Homo sapiens: one gene and its partners. The protein of the gene in region 1 purifies or fractionates together with the protein of each later gene. This does not show direct contact. Each region holds a gene or a part of one and is shown on either strand. Other genes may lie near its edges.

Evidence for each region. The genes of interacting proteins can lie anywhere in the genome.
Region 2: the proteins of DROSHA (region 1) and HNRNPUL2 purify together in Homo sapiens (affinity purification with mass spectrometry, with the first as the bait; one large-scale study listed by BioGRID). This does not show direct contact.
Region 3: the proteins of DROSHA (region 1) and PPFIA1 purify together in Homo sapiens (affinity purification with mass spectrometry, with the first as the bait; one large-scale study listed by BioGRID). This does not show direct contact.
Region 4: the proteins of DROSHA (region 1) and ADAR purify together in Homo sapiens (affinity purification with western blotting, with the first as the bait; one study listed by BioGRID). This does not show direct contact.

The regions. Positions count from the first base shown.
Region 1 is NC_000005.10:31,507,626-31,512,766, reverse strand, and holds part of DROSHA (ribonuclease 3), read left to right. Parts: intron 1-1,590; coding exon 1,591-1,732; intron 1,733-3,991; coding exon 3,992-4,146; intron 4,147-5,141. UniProt on the Homo sapiens protein: Ribonuclease III double-stranded (ds) RNA-specific endoribonuclease that is involved in the initial step of microRNA (miRNA) biogenesis.
Region 2 is NC_000011.10:62,716,412-62,721,552, reverse strand, and holds part of HNRNPUL2 (heterogeneous nuclear ribonucleoprotein U-like protein 2), read left to right. Parts: intron 1-129; coding exon 130-258; intron 259-1,361; coding exon 1,362-1,530; intron 1,531-4,363; coding exon 4,364-4,564; intron 4,565-5,141.
Region 3 is NC_000011.10:70,276,595-70,281,735, forward strand, and holds part of PPFIA1 (liprin-alpha-1), read left to right. Parts: intron 1-2,020; exon of another isoform or gene 2,021-2,809; intron 2,810-5,141. UniProt on the Homo sapiens protein: May regulate the disassembly of focal adhesions. May localize receptor-like tyrosine phosphatases type 2A at specific sites on the plasma membrane, possibly regulating their interaction with the extracellular environment and their association with substrates.
Region 4 is NC_000001.11:154,593,641-154,598,781, reverse strand, and holds part of ADAR (double-stranded RNA-specific adenosine deaminase), read left to right. Parts: intron 1-196; coding exon 197-380; intron 381-805; coding exon 806-954; intron 955-1,514; coding exon 1,515-1,659; intron 1,660-1,786; coding exon 1,787-1,977; intron 1,978-5,141. UniProt on the Homo sapiens protein: Catalyzes the hydrolytic deamination of adenosine to inosine in double-stranded RNA (dsRNA) referred to as A-to-I RNA editing.

The DNA.
Region 1 (5,141 bases):
CTTCGAAGCCAGCAATGGTGGTCGAGTCCTTCTCGTGTTTTGAATATCTCTTGCCTCTTTTTCTGTTGTATCTCTGACCCCTGTTGGCAAAGGTTCCCTGATTTTAAGGATTCCTGTTCTAAGATTGGGTCCACCCAGCTGCAAATCCTTTTTGCCATGTAAGTTAACATATATATTTAATTTCTGGGGATTAGGACATGGACATCTTTGGGAGGGGCTGGTGGCTCAGCCTACCTTCCCAGAGATCAGGAGTTCTCTTCTCCAAATCTTACAGAATCCTGCTTCTATTAGGAAGAAGGGAAGAATGGCTGCCATAGGTGTTATTATTCTTAAAACAATAAAGATGAAGACACTGAAGTTCAGGGAGTTTAAACAGGCAGGGCTGGTTGTTTTTTATTACATCGTTATGAGTATATTAAAACTCCAGTGTAGGAGGAAGACTGATAAACTCAAAAGGCTGACATTTGCCTTTGAGTTTTGTCGTCTGTGTGGTGCAGAGAAGGTGGTGAGAATGTCAAAGCTATACCGGCATCGCCACTCCCAACAATGAGATGGGGCCTGAATTATCCCCTCTTCTGGGTACCAGATTTTATGATTTGCCTTAATTTTACATTTGACAGGTCTGGTTTTTACATTTTAAGGCTACTAAGTCAGAGTGTGGAGATGTAAAGTGATTTTCAACCTGGAAATTGAGTGAGGAAAAGTGGAAAATTTTCTCTAGGAATCTGTTGCAGAGTCCCGTGTTTGTGGTATGTGTTTGTGTGTGTGTGAGAGAGAGTGTGTGCATGTTTATGTCCTCGTGTTTAAGGCATGAGAGTGTGTGTGTGTGTGTGTGCGTGTGTGTGAGAGAGAGAGAGAGGGGATATATAGGATATTTCTTATTGCTCGATGGATTGATATAGGAGAAGATAGGTTATCAGTGATTTTCAGTAGGAAGTGTACATTCCCTATGAGGGTATTTGATGTCAGTTGTCATGATTCTCTGAGGGTCATGATTTTTTAAAAAATGTCATATTAATAGGGCATAGATGAACTGTTCTAATGTTTCTTTTCTGTTTTTTTTTTTTTAGATGAGGTCTCTCTATGTCACCCAGGCTAGAGTATAGTGGCACAGTCATAGTCATAGCTCACTGCATCCTCCAACTCTTGGGCTCAAACAGTTCTCCTGCCTTAGCCTCCCAGGTAGCACAGGCACACACCACCTGGCTAATTTTTTTCTTTTTCATAGAGGTGGGGTCTTGCTATGTTGCCCAGGCTGGTCTTGAACTCCTGGCCTCGAGCAATCCTCCTGCCTCTGCCTCCCAAAGTTGCTAGGATTACAGGCGTGAGCCAGCACGCCTGGCCTGTTCTAATGTTTCTGAATGTTGGCAAGGCACATTTACCTGAAGACTGTGTCAGCGATAAGTGTGTGTTTGATTCAGAGTATGATTGCCAGTACTTGAGCATTTTGTTTTTAAATGTTTGTTAAATTTAGGGTTGAAAAATAGCATCTTGCTGTTAAAAATGCTTTGATTACCTGTGAGATCTTACATATCTTTGATATGATCGTTATTGATATAGTTCCTAATATTGATCCTTTATTTTTAAAAGGGAGATTCTACAGTGGTTGGAACGAGTAGGCTTCGTGACTTATATGACAAATTTGAGGAGGAGTTGGGGAGCAGGCAAGAAAAGGCCAAAGCTGCTCGGCCTCCGTGGGAACCTCCAAAGACGAAGCTCGATGAAGATTTAGGTGAGTCAGAGTCACTAACTAGCCTGAGACCCTTGCGATTATAGCTTCATTCCTAAATTTTGGGGAAATACCCTTGAGAGTCCCACATTGAGATTTCTTCTTTTTCATTTTATTTTTCTTAATTACAGTCAGTAAGATACATAGCAGTAGAACTTCCTTCTTTTTGATCGTATTTTTCCTTAGTTCATTTGGCAGAATACAGCAGCGATCTCATTTGCAAGGCATGCTAACAAGGGTGCCCCTTGGAGAGTTGTCCAGTCAGAAGAGTTCAGCATCTTTCCGAGAGCAGGAGCCCATGCCCCCTGCCTCTCATGAGGACAGGTGTCCTTCCTTGGCCCTCTCCTTTGCCAGGTGCGCCTGGTTTGATGAGGGAAACAGCGACTGTACCCCAGCTCTGTTTGAAGGTTTCTCTCCACTTGTGTAGACAGTTTGCATAGCTTTTTCATAAGGTGGTCTATTTTTTCATGTGTATGTTCTGAGGTTCCAAGTAGGTTGTGAGATCTTTGAGAATGGAAATTGCTTTTTATCACTTTGTATCCTTAGCCCCTAACAGAATGCCATGCACAGATGAGACATTCAGTGTGCATTTAGCTACATGTTCTCTCTAGCTCTTATCTGCCCACCTCCATTACATCCCACACGCTGAGAGGCAGTTATCCATACTGGGCAAAGACACCTGAGTTGGGAGTTGGATGGCTTGGGTTTGAATCCCTGCTCTACCACCTACTTGATATGTGACCTTGGGCCACAGGTTAATCTCCTTAGATTTTTCCCATTTGTAAAATAGGGATGACAGTAGACAGTAGCATCTATCTCATGCAGTACATGTAAATACAACTCCATGTTGGATTTCATTATGCTACTACTATGTTAATCTCTTATAGGATTAATTTATTTTAAAAATTAATTATTTTTCTTTTTGTGGAGATGGAATCTCACTATGTAGGATTAATCTAACTTCTAGGTCTGTTTTTTTTTTTTTTCAAATTGTGGTAAAATATAAGTAATACAAAATTTACCATCTTAACTATTTTTAAGCGTACAGTTCAATAGGGTTCAACATGACCTTGTTTGCAACCAGTCTCCAGAACTGTTTTCCTTTTATAAAACTGAAACTCTGGACCTGTTAAGGAATAACTCCCCAGACCCCAGTTCCCCCGTTCCCTTATTACTACTATGCTACTTTCTTCCTCTATGAATTTGACTCTCAGGCATCTCATATATGTGGAATCATGTAGTATTTGTCTTTTTGTGACTGGCATATTTCAGTTAGCATAAGTCTGTGTCTGTTTTTATTCAGTCACTTTAAGGACTAACACCTTCTCTTGCTGTTATTGAGGGAAAAGAAATGTCAAGTCTTTGGTCTTGCATTCCCAGCCTTCGCTGTGGCATTCCCAGCACTCCCAGCCCCTAACCTCCCAGTGTTTTTCCGTGTGGCCCGCGCTCTAGCTAGTCCACTGTGTTCTTAGCTCCACGCTTTTGCCTACGATGCTCCCTCTTCATTCCTTTCTTCTTTTCTCCTCCTTATCATGCTTCTCCCATCCTGTTGCAGTGCCTGGGTCACATGTGCTCCTTCTTTGAAATTATCACCAGCCTTTCTGGATCCCAGTGAAACTGCCCTTTTATGGATCATTACATAGCTTAAGTGTTAAACTACGTACTACTACTATGGTTTTTCATTTTATCTGACATTGCTCATCAAGTCTTACTTTCTCTCTAAAGATCTTTATTTTCTTTGCTTCCCCAACTAGATTGTGACTTAGCATTATGGGCTATATTTTTTTTTTATGGTGTTGCTTAGTAGAGTATTTGGTGTAGAGTAGGCCTTTAAGTATTTTCTAGAAGAATAAAGAACTCTTCTTACCTTTAGAGGTTTAGGTCATTTGGAAGCCTCCACAAAAACCAGTTTGTCAGCCGGGTGCGGTGGCTCATGCCTATAATCCCAGCACTTTAGGAGGCCGAGACGGGTGTTTCACCTGAGGTCAGGAGTTCGAGACCAGCCTGGTCAACATGGCAAAATCCTGTCTCTACTAAAAACACAAAAAATAGCTGGGTGTGGTGGCAGGCGCCTGTAATCCCAGCTACTCGGGAGGCTAAGGCAGGAGAATCACTTGAACTCGGGAGGTGGAGTTTGCAGTGAGCTGAGATCGCGCACTGCACTCCAGCCTGGGTGACAGAGCGAGACTCCAACTCAGGGAAAAAAAAAAACCAGTTTGTTAATTCCATCAATTTCTGTATTTTTCTCCCAACCCCTGTTAGAGAGTTCCAGTGAATCCGAGTGTGAGTCTGATGAGGACAGCACCTGTTCTAGCAGCTCAGACTCTGAAGTTTTTGACGTTATTGCAGAAATCAAACGCAAAAAGGCCCACCCTGACCGACTTCATGATGAACTTTGGTACAACGATCCAGGCCAGGTGCGTGTTTTTATGCCCTTGCTGTGAAGGTTGCAAACCCAGACATAACGGTTATTGCTCTGGGCTCAGAAGATACATGTTGCCTAGTATTGAAACTGAATTTTACTGTCAGGGTTTTGTCCTTCAGAGCTATTTCTTTTCAGCTTCAGGTTAGTTCCAAAGCATAAGCACCAGAGCAGCTGTCCCTTGAATCATTTTTGATGATGTTTGTAAATTCCATGTTGGGGAGAGGAGTAATGGCCCTGCCTCATTAAATTGCAGTAGATGGAAGGAGACACATGGTAGGATGAGGAGAGAGAACTTGGAGGTCTTTTTAGAAGTAGTTCACCTGGAAGGTATCTTGCTGCAAAATAGTAAATAAGTCCTATAAGATTTCTTTTTTTTAGTTGGTAACAGTCACAAGTTCTCTTCCTTGTTAAGCATGTTTGAGCTAAAAACATAATAGGTGGACATAATTATTTTTATTTTTAATTACTGTCTTAATATGAAGTAATACATAATAAAATTAGCATTGTTAAAAAAGATTTGTGTCACACAGATATATAATACATACAAAAATTATATCTTTAATGCATGTAAAGTTAGGAAGCTAAGGCATATCTGTAAAAAGATAATTTAAAATTTATATTTTGTGAGTAAATTTATAACATTCTATATTAATTAAAATGCTTTTCTCCTGGTTCTTGTTAGATGACAGCTATCCATCTTTTTTTTATAGAACGTCTGGCAGAAATGTATTTTGTGTGTTCCTTTTACTCTTTGGAATTGAGCAGAAATGTTTGCAGAACTGCCAATGCATTTTAAAACTTGGTTTTCTTTTTAAACAGCTTTGTTGAGTTATAATTTACATATGATACAATTGTACTTCAAATTTATAATCCAGCATTTTTTAGTATATTCATGGGGTTGCACAACTATCCCTACAATTGAATTTTAGAACATTTTTTGTCCCCCGTAAAATAAACTTCCTCCATATATGGGTTTTTTTGTTTTTT
Region 2 (5,141 bases), on another chromosome or scaffold:
GAATGGGAATAGAGTGATATCATAGATTCAGTATTTGAAGAGGTGACATTTACCAATAACTCTTGGGCTTTAACTTGCAATATAACTTGTGTTTTGTTTTTTTTTTTCACTTCCTCTCAAACTAATCAGATGAAGGGTCTCGAGGAGCCAGAGATGGACCCCAAAAGCCGAGACCTTTTAGTTCAGCAAGCCTCCCAGTGCCTTAGTAAGCTGGTCCAGATTGCTTCCCGGACAAAGAGGAACTTTATTCTTGATCAGGTATTAATCTGATAAAATTGCCTAGAGTCAAGGTGGGATGTGTATATAAAGAGAGACTGAATTAAGGAGCAGAGTCAGCTTACCTAATTATGACCATCTGGTTGTGTGTTATGGTTGCAATGTTTTTTGAACTCAGAGGTACCCCTAATTAGTGTTTTTACTTGAAAATATATGGACCCAGGCTATAAAACATGTAATAAAGACAATGGAAAGAGTTGGAACTCATTTGAATTCCTGGCTCCACCACATTCTGGTTTGTGATCTTGGATAAGTCCCTTATCCTTTCTGAACCTCAGTTTCCCTGATGAGCAAAACAGGATAATACCTGTCATGTAGTTTGAAAAGTTAAAGAAGATCATGTGTATTGACCCTTTATCTCGTGTCTAAGTTGTCAAAGATACTGAGTCTTTTTTTTTTTTTTTTTTTTTTTTGAGACCGAGTCTCGCTCTGTCGCCCAGGCTGGAGTGCAGTGGCGCTATCTCGGCTCACTGCAAGCTCAGCCTCGTAGGTTCATGCTATTTTCCTGCCTCAGCCTCCCGAGTAGCTGGGACTACAGGTGCCCGCCACCATGCCTGGCTAATTTTTTGTATTTTTAGTAGAGACAGGGTTTCATCGTGTTAGCCAGGATGCTCTTGATCTCCTGACCTCATGATCTACCTGCCTCAGCCTCCCAAAGTGCTGGGATAACAGGATTATAGGCGTGAGCTGTCACGCCCGGCCTTTTTTTTTTTTTTTTTTTTTTTTTTTTGAGATGGAATCTTGCTCAGCCGCCACCCAGGCTGGAGTACAGTGGCGTGATCTCAGCCCACTGCAACCACCATCTCCTGGGTTCAAGCGATTCTTCCGTCTCAGCCTCCCAAATAGCTGGGATTACAGCACCCACCATCATGCCGAGTTAATTTTTGTATTTTAGTATAGATGAGGTTTCACCATGTTGGCCAGGCTGGTCTTGAACTCCTGACCTGAGATGATCTGCCCACCTCGGCCTCCCAAAGTGCTAGGATTACAGGCGTGAGCCACCGTGCCCAGCTGATACTGATTCTTTTGGTTAAATCTGAGTGATAATTTTCTTCCTAAACATCAGTTATTCCTCCTGTTCTTAGTGTAATGTGTACAATTCTGGCCAACGGCGGAAGCTATTGCTGTTCAAGACCTTCTCTCGGAAAGTGGTGGTGGTTGTCCCTAATGAGGAAGATTGGAAGAAGAGGCTGGAGTTGAGGAAGGAAGTAGAGGGAGATGATGTGCCTGAATCTATAATGCTGGAGATGAAAGGTGGGTGTCTTAGTCCATTTTCTGCTGCTATAACAGAATACCATAGACTTCATAATTTGTAAGTAATAGAGGTTTATTTCCCTCATTCTGGAGGCTAGGAAGTCCAAGAGCATAGCATTAGCATCTGGTGAGGTCCTTCTTGCTGCATCATTCCATGTCAGGAGGGCAAAAGGCAAGAGGGCACATGTGAGAGAACTTGCTTTTATAACAAAGCCACTTTCACAATAATGGCATTAATCTATTCATGAGGATGGAATCCTCATGACCAAATCACATTAAAAGTCCCACCCTCTCAATACTGCTCATTGGGGATTAAGTATTCAACACTTGTACTTTGGTGGGACATAACTCAAACCATAGCAGTGGGCTAAAATTGTACAAGTTAAAGAGATCTTATCCCTGGTCAGTGCACACCTTATTGAGGTCTCTTAGCAACTGGAGTGACACTCTACATCTAAAATGTAAATCTGAAGAGGAACTTAATGGTCGTGAGCACTTGTAGATAAATGAATGAACAGAGAGAAGCAATAATTTTGACTCATTGTTTTCTTGGTTTGTTTTGGTTTGGTTTTGAGACAGAGTCTCACCCTGTTGCCCAGCCTGGAGTGCAGTGGTGTGATCTCAGCTCACTGCAACGTCCACCTCCTGGGTTCAAGTGATCCTCTTGCTTCAGCCTCCCAAGTAGCTGAGATTACAAGCATGTGCCACCATGCCTAGCTAATTTTTGTATTTTTAGTAGAGATGGGGTTTCGCCATATTGCCCAGGCTGGTCTTGGAACTCCTGACTTCAGGTGATTTGCCCGCCTTGGTCTCCTAAAGTGCTTAGATTATAGGCATACGCCGCTGTGCCTAGCCGCCTTGGCTCGTTTTGAAAAAGATACAGAAAGGGAAATAGTGAGCCAGGCGCGGTGGCTGACGCCTGTAATCCCAGCACTTTGGGAGGTTGAGGTGGGTGGATTACAAGGTCAGGAGCTCACAACCAGCCTGGCCAAGATGGTGAAACCCTGTCTCTACTAAAAATACAAAAAAAATTAGTCGGGCATGGTGGTGGGCGCTTGTAATCACAGCTACTCGGGAGGCTGAGGCAGAGAATTGCTTGAACCTAGGTGGCAGAGTTTGCGGTGAGCTGGGATTGTGCCACTGCACTCCAGCCTGGACAACAGAGTGAGAAGACTCGGTCTCAAAAAAAAAAAAGTGACCGTAGGGTAATTTAAACTCAAAGGATCAAGGGAGAGGCTTCTGTGAATCAGTTATTTGTTAAGTAAATATTTCTGGTACATCTACTGTTTGTCTACATTTCTTATTCTGCTTTTTTTTTTTTTTTTTTTAAAGACAGAGTCTTGCCCTTGTCGCCCAGGTTGGAGTACAGTGGCGCGATCTCGGCTCACTGCAACCTCCGCCTCCCGGGTTCAAGCGATTCTCCTGCCTCAGCCTCTTGAGTAGCTGGGATTACAGGTGCCCGCCCAGCTAATTTTTGTACTTTTAGTAGAGACAGGGTTTCGCCATGTTGGTCAGGCTGGTCTCGAACTCCTGACCTCAGGTGATCTGCCCGCCTCGGCCTCCCAAAGTGCTGGGATTACAGGTGTGTGCCACTGCGCCTGGCCGCAGGGAGAGATTATTATGGTTCAGATTAAAATATGGCAGTTGGAGTGAATGATCTCATTGGTATAACTTGATTTCTGGTATCACGTTATGTTTGTGTTTTGTTTGTTAATTTGGCTGAAGTCTGTAATGCAATACATAAGACAGAGAGTAATGTCTACATAAGAAATATTAATATTTTGATTGATCCTCCTATTCCCTTAAAACGTGATTTTTTTTCCCATTGCTGCCTTTAGTTCCTGACATCCCACCGAGTCTAGCAACTGCTTGCTCTTCAAATACTGATAATCCCCAGGCATGGGAACTGGTTTGCATATCTATGAGCCAGATCCTCAGAGTTTACTGAGAATGAACTATGCCAGTCCATAACTCTTACTTAGGCACTCAGAGAAATGTAGCTCAGTTTTATAAAATTGAGGGCCAACTGGATTCATCTAAGAATCATGAGAGCCCCATTGAACTGAATTTCCACTGGGACTCAGCTTCTGAAGTTGACGTCCAGAGACTGGCAGATGTGCTGGCCTATCACGGACAGGTGGTAAATGAGAGCCCTTGTACTCTTGTCTTCTCTTCTCCTTGTATAGATGAGCAGATGCCTTTAGGCTTGGGTCAGTTTCTCATTGAGTCTCTCTTCTGTCAGCGAGGCCAGAGTGCAGTGGCACTCAGCCTCCCGAGTAGCTGGGATAACAGGCACCTGCCACCATGCCTGGCTAATTGTTGTATTTTTAGTAGAGACAGGGTTTCACCATGTTGGCCAGGCTGGTCTCGAACTCCTGACCTCAAGCAGTCCGCCTGCCTTGGCCTCCCAAAATGCTGGGATTACAGGCGTGAGCCACCATGCCCGGCCATCTCTGAGTCTCTTTTTAAAATGTTATTTCTTAGCATCTTATCTGACCAACACCAGAACTTTCTCAGTTACTTTTAGCCTCTGGTTACCTGCTTCTGTCCTGATGAGAAACTTTAACCCAGTTCACTCCTAATTTATTATAGATCACTTAAGAACTTGTAAATCTACATAGCCCTTTGCCTGGGTCTGTTACAATTTAGGGAAAACTTAGAGTAGAAAAAGTTAATGTCATTATTTAGATGCGAGTGGGTATAAACGTAGCACATTTTTGTGCAGTAATAGATGAGGCATAGAAAGTCATATGCTTCTTGTAGAGTTTTCATAATGAGTTCTTACCCATCTATGCACTTTTCAGGCCCACAAGCTTCTCTCTTACTCTTATAGCCAACTTCTCTTTGCCTGAAAAATGCGACTATATGGATGAGGTGACATATGGGGAGCTGGAGAAGGAGGAAGCTCAGCCCATTGTCACTAAGTACAAGGAGGAGGCAAGGAAGCTTCTGCCCCCCTCCGAGAAGCGGACAAATCGCCGAAACAACCGAAACAAGCGTAACCGGCAGAACCGAAGCCGGGGCCAAGGCTATGGTGAGTCTTGGGGACCTGCCAGCCCCCTACTTCAGTCCATTCTTTGTGCTTAGTACAGCAAGATGTGCAAGGGAAGGCCAAGGAAACCAAGTCAGGTCATTAACAATACGGAAGTGCCTTCTTCATGGAGCTTATTTCTTCCTGTGTTCTTTATCCCTGCCTTTTTCTTGTGCTTTTTCCATAATTCTTCAACAACAACAAAAATCCTCTTTTTTAAAAAAGAGTTACTTTTCACAAAAGTATTTGTTTCTTTGAAAAGCAATGCTTGGGCTTTCTCATCTATCTAGTTTTCATTTTAACATATGGGTTCCCAGTGTCACTGTTCCTGTCTTATCTGAAGGATTTGTGCAGTGAAATCAAATTCTCATCTTCAGTTTTCTTGCTTCTGTGTCATTTCGATTAACAAGAAAGCGAATGCTTTATTCAGTGTTTTTTGTGGGGGGAAGAACTTAACCAAGCAAGTTAGGCTATTAGTAGAATTAATTTTCCCCCTGAATGTCTAGTTTGTCAGTTAAAACCCCAGTGTGCATTCACTGCTCTTTAAAAATGTGTGTGTATGTGTGTGTGTAACTGTTAA
Region 3 (5,141 bases), on another chromosome or scaffold:
AATTTGTGTTTTCTTCCTTAAATGTTTGAAATAATTCTTTGGCAAAACCAGCTGGTACAGGGTTTTCCTTGTGAGAAGGAAAAATTTTAGAATTAATTTTATAGGTAGATGTAGGATTTTGAATATTTCTTCATGTGTCTATTTAGATAAAGCATTTTTCCCCGCTAGAGATTTGTTCAGGCCACCCAGACTTTCCAATTTGTAAGTTTAAAGTGGTTTGTAATCCTTATTATCTGCAAGATCTGTAGTGATGTTCCCTTTTAATAATTCTTGATATCAGTAATTCATATATTATCTCTTAATCAGTCTTGTTGGGGGTTTGTCAATTTTGTAAGTTCTTTTAAGGGACCAACTTTCGGCTTTACATTTTTTTCTACTTACATTTGTTTTCTATTGCATTAATTTCTACTTTTTTTTTTTTGCTTTTTTTTTGTTTGATTGAGATATATATATATATATATATATATTTTTTTTTTTCCAGGCACAGTCTCATTGTGTCTCCCAGGGTCAAGTCCTTAGATACTTGAACTGGATTTAACTCCCTCCTACCTTTTGTGTCATTGTTTTATATATTTCAGTTTAATTTATATTTATTTTTAAAAATAGAGACAGCGTCTTGCTGTATTGCCCCAGCTGGTCTTCAACTCCTGGCCTCAGGTGATCCTCCCCCCTTAGCCTCCCAAAACAATGGGATCCAGGCGTGAGCCACTACACGCTTTTAGCTGCATCTTACAAGTTTATGTACTTTAATTTTAGATATACTTTTGCAGTATCATAATTATTTTGTACAGTTAATGTTTATTTAGATTTATCCTCTTAGTTACCATTTTTGTTGCTCTTCATTCTTTATTGTTGTTTCATGTTTCTGCCGGGGATTATATTTCTTGTTTTTTTTTTTTCTTTTTTTCTTTTTTGAGACAGAGTCTCGCTCTGTTGCCCAGGCTGAAGTGCAGTGGCACGATCTTGGCGCACTGCAACCTCCATCTCCCATGTTTGAGCGATTTTCTTGCCTCAGCCTTCTGAGTAGCTGGGACTATAGGCATATGCCACCACATCCGGCTAATTGTTGTATTTTTAGTAGAGACTGGGTTTCACCATGTTGGCCAGGCTGGTCTCAAGCTCCTGACCTCAAGTGATCTGCCTGCTTCAGCCTCCAAAGTGCTGGGATTACAGATGTGAGCCACTGCGCCCAGCCTATATTTCTTTTCCCTGAAGAACTTTCTACGGTATTTCTTTGAGTTCATATCTGTGGATAATGAATTGTCATTTTTGTTTGCCTGAAAATTTTCTATTTTGCCTTTAGTTTTTGTTTTGTTTTGTTTTGTTTTGTTTTTTAAGATGGAGTCTCGCTCTGTCGCCGGTCTGGAGTGCAGTGATGTGATCTTGGCTCACTGCAACCACCGCCTCCCGGGTTCAAGCAATTCTCCTGCCTCAGCCGCCCGAGTAGCTGGAACTACAAGCACGTGCCACCACGCCCAGCTAATTTTTGTATTTTTAGTAGAGAAGGTGTTTCACCATGTTGGCCAGGATGGTCTCTATCTGTTGACCTGGTGATCTGCCCTCGTCAGCCTCCCAAAGTGCTGGGATTACAGGCGTGAGCCACCATGCCTGGCCTTTTTTTTTTTAAATGTGATGTTTCACCATGTTTGCCAGGCTGGGGTCAAACTCATTGGCTCAAGCAGCTGCCTGCCTCAGCCTCCCAAACTGCTGGGATTACAGGTGTGAGCCACTGTGCCCAATTTGCCTTCAGTTTTGAAGGATGATTTTGCTGGGTATAGAATACTGGGATCGTGGTCATTTCCTTGCACCATTTTGTAGCAGCGAATTCATTGTTTTTTTAGCTCGCTTCCTTTTTCTTGACAAGTCAGCTTTTGGTGTTATTGTTGTCCCATTTGAAGTAATACTTCTTTTTATTTTCCCCTCTGGTTGCTTTTTATTTTTATTTTTTGGAGAGGATATGACTTTTACTGAGTTTATCCACCAGAGTGGAAATAATGTTTGTGCAAAACCAAATGTTTGTTACTATAACTCTCCATCACAATTAAAATCCAAACAGTTTTTTGAAAACAGTCAACTCAATCAAAACCCACTACTTCAGAATCAATAGCTTCTTTGAAGCCACAGTAACAAATATGGTTAAGACTTGAATGTAGAAATTTGTTGGTTGGAAAGCTAATTAAACTTCCAACTTGCTCAAGTAGAATTACAGAAAGGCAGAATTGTGTTTTTCACAGAGATATAGTTCACTGGAATCAGCCACACTGGACAGCTGGTAGAGTGTTTAGGGTCCTGAGATAATAAGGAATCCAGGCAGCCTTTAGACAGTCTGCTGTTGTCCTTTCTTCCCAATTAGAGATTTGTGGATGTGTGGAATGACACCTTTACCAGCAATTGTAGACTTGAAGAGAGAGCCCAATTCTTTATCTCCACGAATGGCAAGTTGCAAGTAATGAGGGGTAGTATGCTTTACTGTGAAGTCTTTTGACGCATTTCTTGCCAGTTCAAGTACCTCTGCGGTGAGGTACTCCAGGATGGCTGTGCTATTCACAGCGGCAGTCGCGCCCACACGTCCAGGACTGATTGTCCTAGATTTCAGGTGTCAGTGAATACGGCCCACCAGGAACTGCAAATTGGCTCTCTTGTGAGTGGGAAGCTGCCTTTGTTGGCCTTTCTGGAGTCCTTCCCAGCCTTACTGCCAGCCATTTTCAATTCTGCTGAAGCTCAAACAGGCAAGGCAGAGAAAGGACTAATCAGACACACAGCAAGATCTCACCATCTACTCATTCCTCACACCAGGATTTGAAGCTGCCTCTGGTGGCTTGTAACATTTTCTTTGCTTCAGGCATTAGCAAAACTTGGTATTTGTTGTATTGGTGGCCTGGTTCCTAATCAATTTTGGAAGTTTTGGCTCTTCTCTCTATAAATATTCCTATTTTCCACTCATCTTCACTCAGAGGGCCTCCATTTTTGTGTACATTAGGCATTTTTTTTTTTTTTGAGATGGAGTTTCGCTATTGTTGCCCAAGTTGGAGTGCAATGGTGTGATATACATTAGGCTTTTATCATGTCCTATGTGTCTCTTGTGCTCCTTTCCGTATTTTCTAGACCTTTTCTGTGTATGTGTCTAGGTGTGTGTGTGTGTGTGTGTGTGTGTGTGTGTGTGTGTGTATTTAGTTTTTAGAGACTGGGTCTCTCTGTTGCCCAGGGTGGTCTTGAACTCTTGGGCTCAAGCAGTCTTCCTGCCTTGGCCTCCTAAACTGTTGGGACTACAGGCGTGAGCCACCGTGTCCGGCCTGTGTGTGTGTGGGGGATGTGTGTGTGTGTATATTTTTGGGACAGGGTCTCGCTCTGTTGCCCAGGCTGTAGTGTAGTGGTGCAGTCTCAGCTCACTGCAGCATCTGCCTTCTGGGCTCAAGCGATCCTCCCACCTCAGCTCCTGAGTAGCAGGGACTACAGGTGCGTGCCACCACACCTGGCTAATTTCTGTATTTTCAGTGGAGGTGGGGTTTTGCCATGTTGCACAGACTGGTCTCAAACTCCTGGACTTAAGTGATCCACTTGCCTCAGTCTCCGAAAGTGTTGGGATTACAGGCATGAGCTAGCATGTGTGTATATATGTGTGTATATATATATACGTACATACATATATATATATAAATATATATGTATATAAAAATTTTTAAGAGACAGGTGGCTGGGTGCAGTGGCTCACGCCTGTAATCCCAGCACTTTGGGAGGCCAAGGTGGGTGAATCACTTGAAGTCAGGAGTTCGAGACCAGCCTGGCCAACATGGTGAAACCCTGTCTCTACTAAAAATACAAAAAATAGCCGGGCATGGTGGCACATGCCTGTAATCCCAGCTACTTGGGAGGCTGAGGCAGGAGACTCACTTGAACCTGGGAGACGGAGGTTGCAGTGAGCCAAGATCACGCCATTGCACTCCAGCCTGGGTGGCAAGAGCGAAACTCCGTCTCGGGGAAAAAGAAAAAGACAGGCACCCTGTTGTTGCCGAGGCTGCAGTGCAGTGGCGCGCGTGATCACTGTTCACTGCAGCCTCAAACTCCAGGGCTCAAGCAATCCTTCTGCCTCAGCCTTCTGAGTAGCTGGGACTATAGGTATGTGCCACTGTGCCCAGCTAATTTTTAAATTTTTTGTAGAGGCAGGGTCTTGCTATTTTGCCCAAGCTGTTCTTAAACTCCTGACCTCAAGTGAGCCTCCTACCTTGACATGTCAAAGCACTGGGATTACAGGTGTGAGCTATTGTGCCCAAAATCTAAAGTCCAGATTTTTTTTACTGACCCATCTTCCACCTCACTCATCCCCTCTTCATTTGTGTCCAATCTGCTGTTTAGCCCATAGATTGAGTTCTTAATTTCAGTTATAATTTTCAGTTCTAGAGTCTGCTTAATTCCTTTTACTATTCTAGTTCTCTAGTGAAATTTTTTCCTTTTGTCAAGTATATTTTTGAATAGTTGACATTTGCATCTGATAACTCTATTATATGGGTCACCTCCGGATCCATTTCTGTTTTTCTTTTTTCTCTAGGTTCATTTGTTGATAACGCCCATTTTTGTTTTTTTAATTGAGTCAGACATTATGTATGAAAAACTGTAGAAAGCGCTGGGTGATGCTGTCTTCCTTCAGAAAGTTTCCCTCTGTCATCTGGCACATGCCCAGAGTAGGGACAGATCATCTCAGCTCAGTCAGGGCCTGGGTGACCAGAGGCTGGGATTCAGTCAGTAAGCGTCAGTTGAAGCTGCCTTCCCCCAACCTCCTGCTCCTGGTGTAACCATCCGGGGGTTCCATCTGAAACCCTGGAGTGTTTCCCAGGGCCCCTCTTTCTTGGCGTGTCCTGGAGCCCAAGTTTTGTCTCCTTAACGCCATGAGACTACTGAAAGCCCAGCTTCTCGGCCAGGTTTGCAGAGTGTTGGGCTCATTTCCTGTGTCTCCCTTTTCTCTGGGATCTTGGCCCCTTAAGTCCTGGCTGACTGTCAGGCCTGTACTTCTTTTTGTCTCCCCAGACCCTTGGGGCTTTCTAGAGCTCTGTAGCCTCTACTTTCTGCTGAGTTTTCTTCCCAGTTATCAGTGTACTGCCCCCAAATCCTTCCAAATTGTCAAATGCACTGACAGAAAGAGTGGG
Region 4 (5,141 bases), on another chromosome or scaffold:
ACTGGCTGCTTTGTTTACAAAAAGAAAGGACAGGCTGAGCCTTAAGGAGTAGGAAGGAGTTCCTTGGCCTACCCTTCATCTCCACAAGTGAAAAGCCCCTTAGCGTAGCAGAAAATTCCAGGTTGAAGGTCTCTTTGGAGAAGGCAGAAGGAGTGACCTAGACTCCTGTTCACACATCTAATCACTTTCCGTCAAGATTTAAATTCCAGGTTGTCATCAATGGCCGAGAGTTTCCCCCAGCTGAAGCTGGAAGCAAGAAAGTGGCCAAGCAGGATGCAGCTATGAAAGCCATGACAATTCTGCTAGAGGAAGCCAAAGCCAAGGACAGTGGAAAATCAGAAGAATCATCCCACTATTCCACAGAGAAAGAATCAGAGAAGGTAGGTGTCCTCCTGCCATCTGGGAGGATCAGTTCCCTGTCAGTGTCTGGATTGTAACTGACTCCCTTGAGGCAATCCCAGCCTAAACAACTGACACCATCTCGGAGTCAGCTTCCCACTCTTCCCTCTACCCTATCTCGCCAGCCCACCTTTCCTCCTCTCATACCCAGCTCCTCTGTCTGCTCCTGTCCCAACATAATTGGATTTACAGAATTTCGGACTTGAAAGAGACCTGAAAGTTTATTGAGGCCAATCTCCTCTCTTGGAAGATGCGGAATGAGAGCTCCAGCAGCCCCTTTAACTTTGGGAAGCCAACCCCTTGACAGGTGGTGGGAATAAAGTCCCCCATCCCCATCCCTTCTTCTGTGATGGACTAACCAGTGTTTTCTTAGTTTTGTTTTCTTCTTGTCTCTCATTTTCTCTAGACTGCAGAGTCCCAGACCCCCACCCCTTCAGCCACATCCTTCTTTTCTGGGAAGAGCCCCGTCACCACACTGCTTGAGTGTATGCACAAATTGGGGAACTCCTGCGAATTCCGTCTCCTGTCCAAAGAAGGCCCTGCCCATGAACCCAAGTATGTCCTACGTGTCCTCTGTCCAGCTGAGGTTTTCTCAGAAAGAAAAAGAGACACATTTTCTTCCTTGCCTCCTCAGGGATGGCAGATTGACCAATTTCTCCTGTTTCAAAATGGGGAAAGGAGGGCTCTGAGGTCCTGGTTGCTGCTTGTGAGGCAGACAATTAGGGATTAGGAATTCAAAGGGAATTCCTGGCCCACCCTCTATCTCCTCTATAAGCACTAGGGAGGTTCACGGCTTGGAGGTCACTCACTGTTGGTGGGACAGAAAGGTACAGGACCTGAGAAGCTCTCTGCCTGTGGGTCTATAGACTCACATGTTCAAGAGAAGTGTTCCTGGAAGAGGTGAAACTAGGTTGATGCTTAAATGTTGAAAGGGGTCAGCCAGGCTAAGAGACACTGGCTGTTCAAGGCAGAAGTGACTGCATGAGATGTGACTGCACAGAGGTGATGTGTTCAAGGAAATTACCAGTAGTGGAGGATGGCAGCCTGGCAGAGGCTAGGTCAGGCTCCTCAGTCAAAACCATTTTAATCCTTCTACGTGCTTCATCTCCTGTCAGGTTCCAATACTGTGTTGCAGTGGGAGCCCAAACTTTCCCCAGTGTGAGTGCTCCCAGCAAGAAAGTGGCAAAGCAGATGGCCGCAGAGGAAGCCATGAAGGCCCTGCATGGGGAGGCGACCAACTCCATGGCTTCTGATAACCAGGTAGGGCGTTTTCCTACTCAAAAGATACAGGTCATTTTTAGCAACTGAGTGGTTTAAGATTGCCAGTGACTCCCTCAACATTTCCTGAAGTGTTTATGGCTCCTCTGTTTGATGGATTCTCCTTTAGCCTGAAGGTATGATCTCAGAGTCACTTGATAACTTGGAATCCATGATGCCCAACAAGGTCAGGAAGATTGGCGAGCTCGTGAGATACCTGAACACCAACCCTGTGGGTGGCCTTTTGGAGTACGCCCGCTCCCATGGCTTTGCTGCTGAATTCAAGTTGGTCGACCAGTCCGGACCTCCTCACGAGCCCAAGTGAGTGTCCTAGTCCTGGCTAATGCATGTGTCACCAGTTGGGGATGGTCTGTAACCCAGGGAAAACAAGGGTGTGCTTTAGCTGTGTAGGACAGAAGGGGCGAGTTGAGGGAAACAAGTCCAGCCCTGTCTCCACGGCCTCTTAGAAGACAATAGACCTGCCAAGAGTGAATGCGTTCACTCTTCCAGTAAGCATGATCCTTTTTAATTTTTTGACTAGTTTTAATTTTTAAAGAAATGTATAGGTACATTAAAAAATCATTCAGGCCAGACATGGTGGCTCACGCCTGTAATCCCAGCACTTTGGGAAGTTGAGGCAGGTAGATTACCTGAGGTCGGGAGTTCAAGACCAGCCGGACCATATGAGGAAACCCTGTCTCTACTAAAAATACAAAAATTAGCTGGGCGTGGCAGCGGGTGCCTGTAATCCCAGCTACTCGGGAGGCAGACAGGAGAATTGATTGAAGCTGGGAGGCGGAGGTTGCAGTGAGCTGAGATCGCACCACTGCACTCCAGCCTGAGCAACAGAGCAAGACTCCATCTTGAAAAAAATCATTCAAGCTGATTGAAAAAGTAGTCATTTCAATGAAAAGTCTCATTTCCGTCTCAGACTTCTAGTTTCCCTCCCTAGACCCATATATTACTATAGCCCTGCATTAGCAACTGGGATGCGGTCTGAGAAGCATGGTTTTGTTGTTGTGAGAACATCAGTGTGTATTTACATAAACCTAGATGGCATGGGCTCCTACACACGTACAGGCTGTATGGTATGGCCGGTTGCTCCTAGGCTACAAACCTGTACAGCATGTAACTGTAGTGAATACTGTGGGCAGCTGCAACACACTGGTAAGTATTGGTGTCTATCTAAACAGCAAAAAGATACAGTAAAAAGACAGCATAAAGGATTAAAAAAATACTACACCTGTATAGGGCGCCTGCCATGAATGGAGCTTGCAGGACTAGAAGTTGCTGTGGGTGAGTCAGCCAGTGAGTGGAGAATGAATATGAGGGCCTAGGACATGACTGTACACTAATGTAGGCTTTGTAAACACTGTTCACTTAGGCTAACTACATTTATTTAAAATATTTTTCTTTAATAAATTAACCTTAGCTTACTGTAACTTTTTTACTTTATTTTTACTTTATTTTTTACTTTATTAACTTTTTTATTTTTTGTTCCTTTTGTAATAATACTTAGCTTAAAACACAAACATGTTGTACTGCTATCCAAAAATATTTCCTTTGTTTATATCCTTAATTCTATAGTCTTTTTTCTGTTTGTAAATTTTTTTATTTTTTTAACTTTTTAAACTTTTTTGTTGAAAGCTAAGATGAAAATACATTAGCTGTTAGCCTAGGCCTACACAGGGTCAGGATCCTCAGTATCACTGTCTTCCACCTCCACGTCTTGTCCCACTGTAAGGTGTTCAGGGGCAATAACATGCATGGGGGCCGTCATCTCCTATGGTAACAGTGCTTTCTGGAATACCTGCCTGAGGCTTTTTTTAGTTACTTATTTTTCTAGAAGTAGAAGGAGTATACGCTGAAATAATGATAAAAATATAGTAAACACATAAGGAGCGTGTAGCCTAGATCCCTCGCATTCACAGTTCACAGTCGAGTTCACACTCCTACAAGAATCTCATGCTGCTGCTGATCCCACAGGAGGCGGAGCTCGGACCAGAATGCTTTCTTGCTCGCCACTCACCTCTTCCTGTGTGCCCAGGTTCCTAACAGGTTACAGAGCCCTGCACTTGGTGATAAGAATTTTTCAGCTCCATCATAATCTTACGGGGCCCCTGTCATATGTGTGATTTATCATTGAACAAAACACTGTTATGCAGTACATGACTATACCAGTTTCTTGAGTCCTTCTAGAAATTGCTGTGCATAACTAGCACATTTTCCCTTTTGTCTTTTTAAACAAGTATATCTTCTGTTTTATACGTTGACTCCTTTACTTACCAGACTTCTTGCATAGCTGCATAGTATTTCATTGAATAGAAGCTGACAAATTCAGTTTCTCAGAAGTAAACATTTAATAGGGACTTAGGAACAGAAATGATGTCTTGGGTGGCTGCAAGATGGTGGATCCCTGCACTTACCCTCCAGAAAGTATGCTTTCTATAGAGGCTTTTTTGGTTAAACATGCAGCTGGTCACACATTATACTTTCTTGTGAAACTTATGAGCACTAGCTGGTGGGGAGGCTTGGTAGACATCTTTGTGTGGAATTATTTATGCTACCCAACACTTTGGGATGCGGGAGTCAGATATTGGTGGTCATAGTGGTTTTGCATCAAGATGGCATCACTCTTGCCATGCAACCGGCATGTTTTCTTAATCTCTAAGGTCTATCACAAAGTGGAAAAGCAAGGTGTAAAGTGAGGGGAGAGGTGAAGATTGTCTGTATATGTCTAGAATATTTTCTTGAAGGATCGAAAAAACTGGCAACTGTGTTTGCTTCTGGGGAAGGAGGGACACTTTTATTGTACACTCTTAACTGTTTGAATTTTCACATGTTTGGCATCCAACTTGTCCATTTTAAAGTCATTAAGGAAAAAAGCTTATAAAAATGCTATCTTGTTACTTTAAATTTGTCTCTCCTTAATAGAAGTAATGTCAGCCGGGCGCAGTGGCTTACGCCTATAATCCCAGCACTTTGGGAGGCCGAGGTGGGTGGATCATTTGAGCTCAGTAATTTGAGACCAGCCTGGCCAACATGGTAAAACCCCATCTCTACTAAAAATACAAAAAATAGCTGAGCATGGTGGTATGCCCCTGTATGCCAGCTACTCCGGAGGCTGAGCAGGAGAATTACTTGAACCCAGGAGGCGGAAGTTGCAGTGACCTGAGATTGTGCCACTGCACTCCAGCCTGGGTGATGGAGTGAGACTCCGTCTCAAAAAAAAAAACAAAAAAATCAGAAGTAATGGCATTTCATTTATTCATATTTATGTGTTATTTGCATTTCCTTTTCTGTGAACCACCTGTTCTTGTCCTTTTCCAGTTTTCTTTCAGATTGTTACTCTCATGGATATGTAAGAACTTTTAACATAATTTTTAAAAGTAGCCCTTTGCCCAACATGACCCAATTTAGAACACACATCTGCCCACTGTTTAAGCCATCTGGAAAAGGAGAGGCCCAGTCTCCCTCCAGCTGCT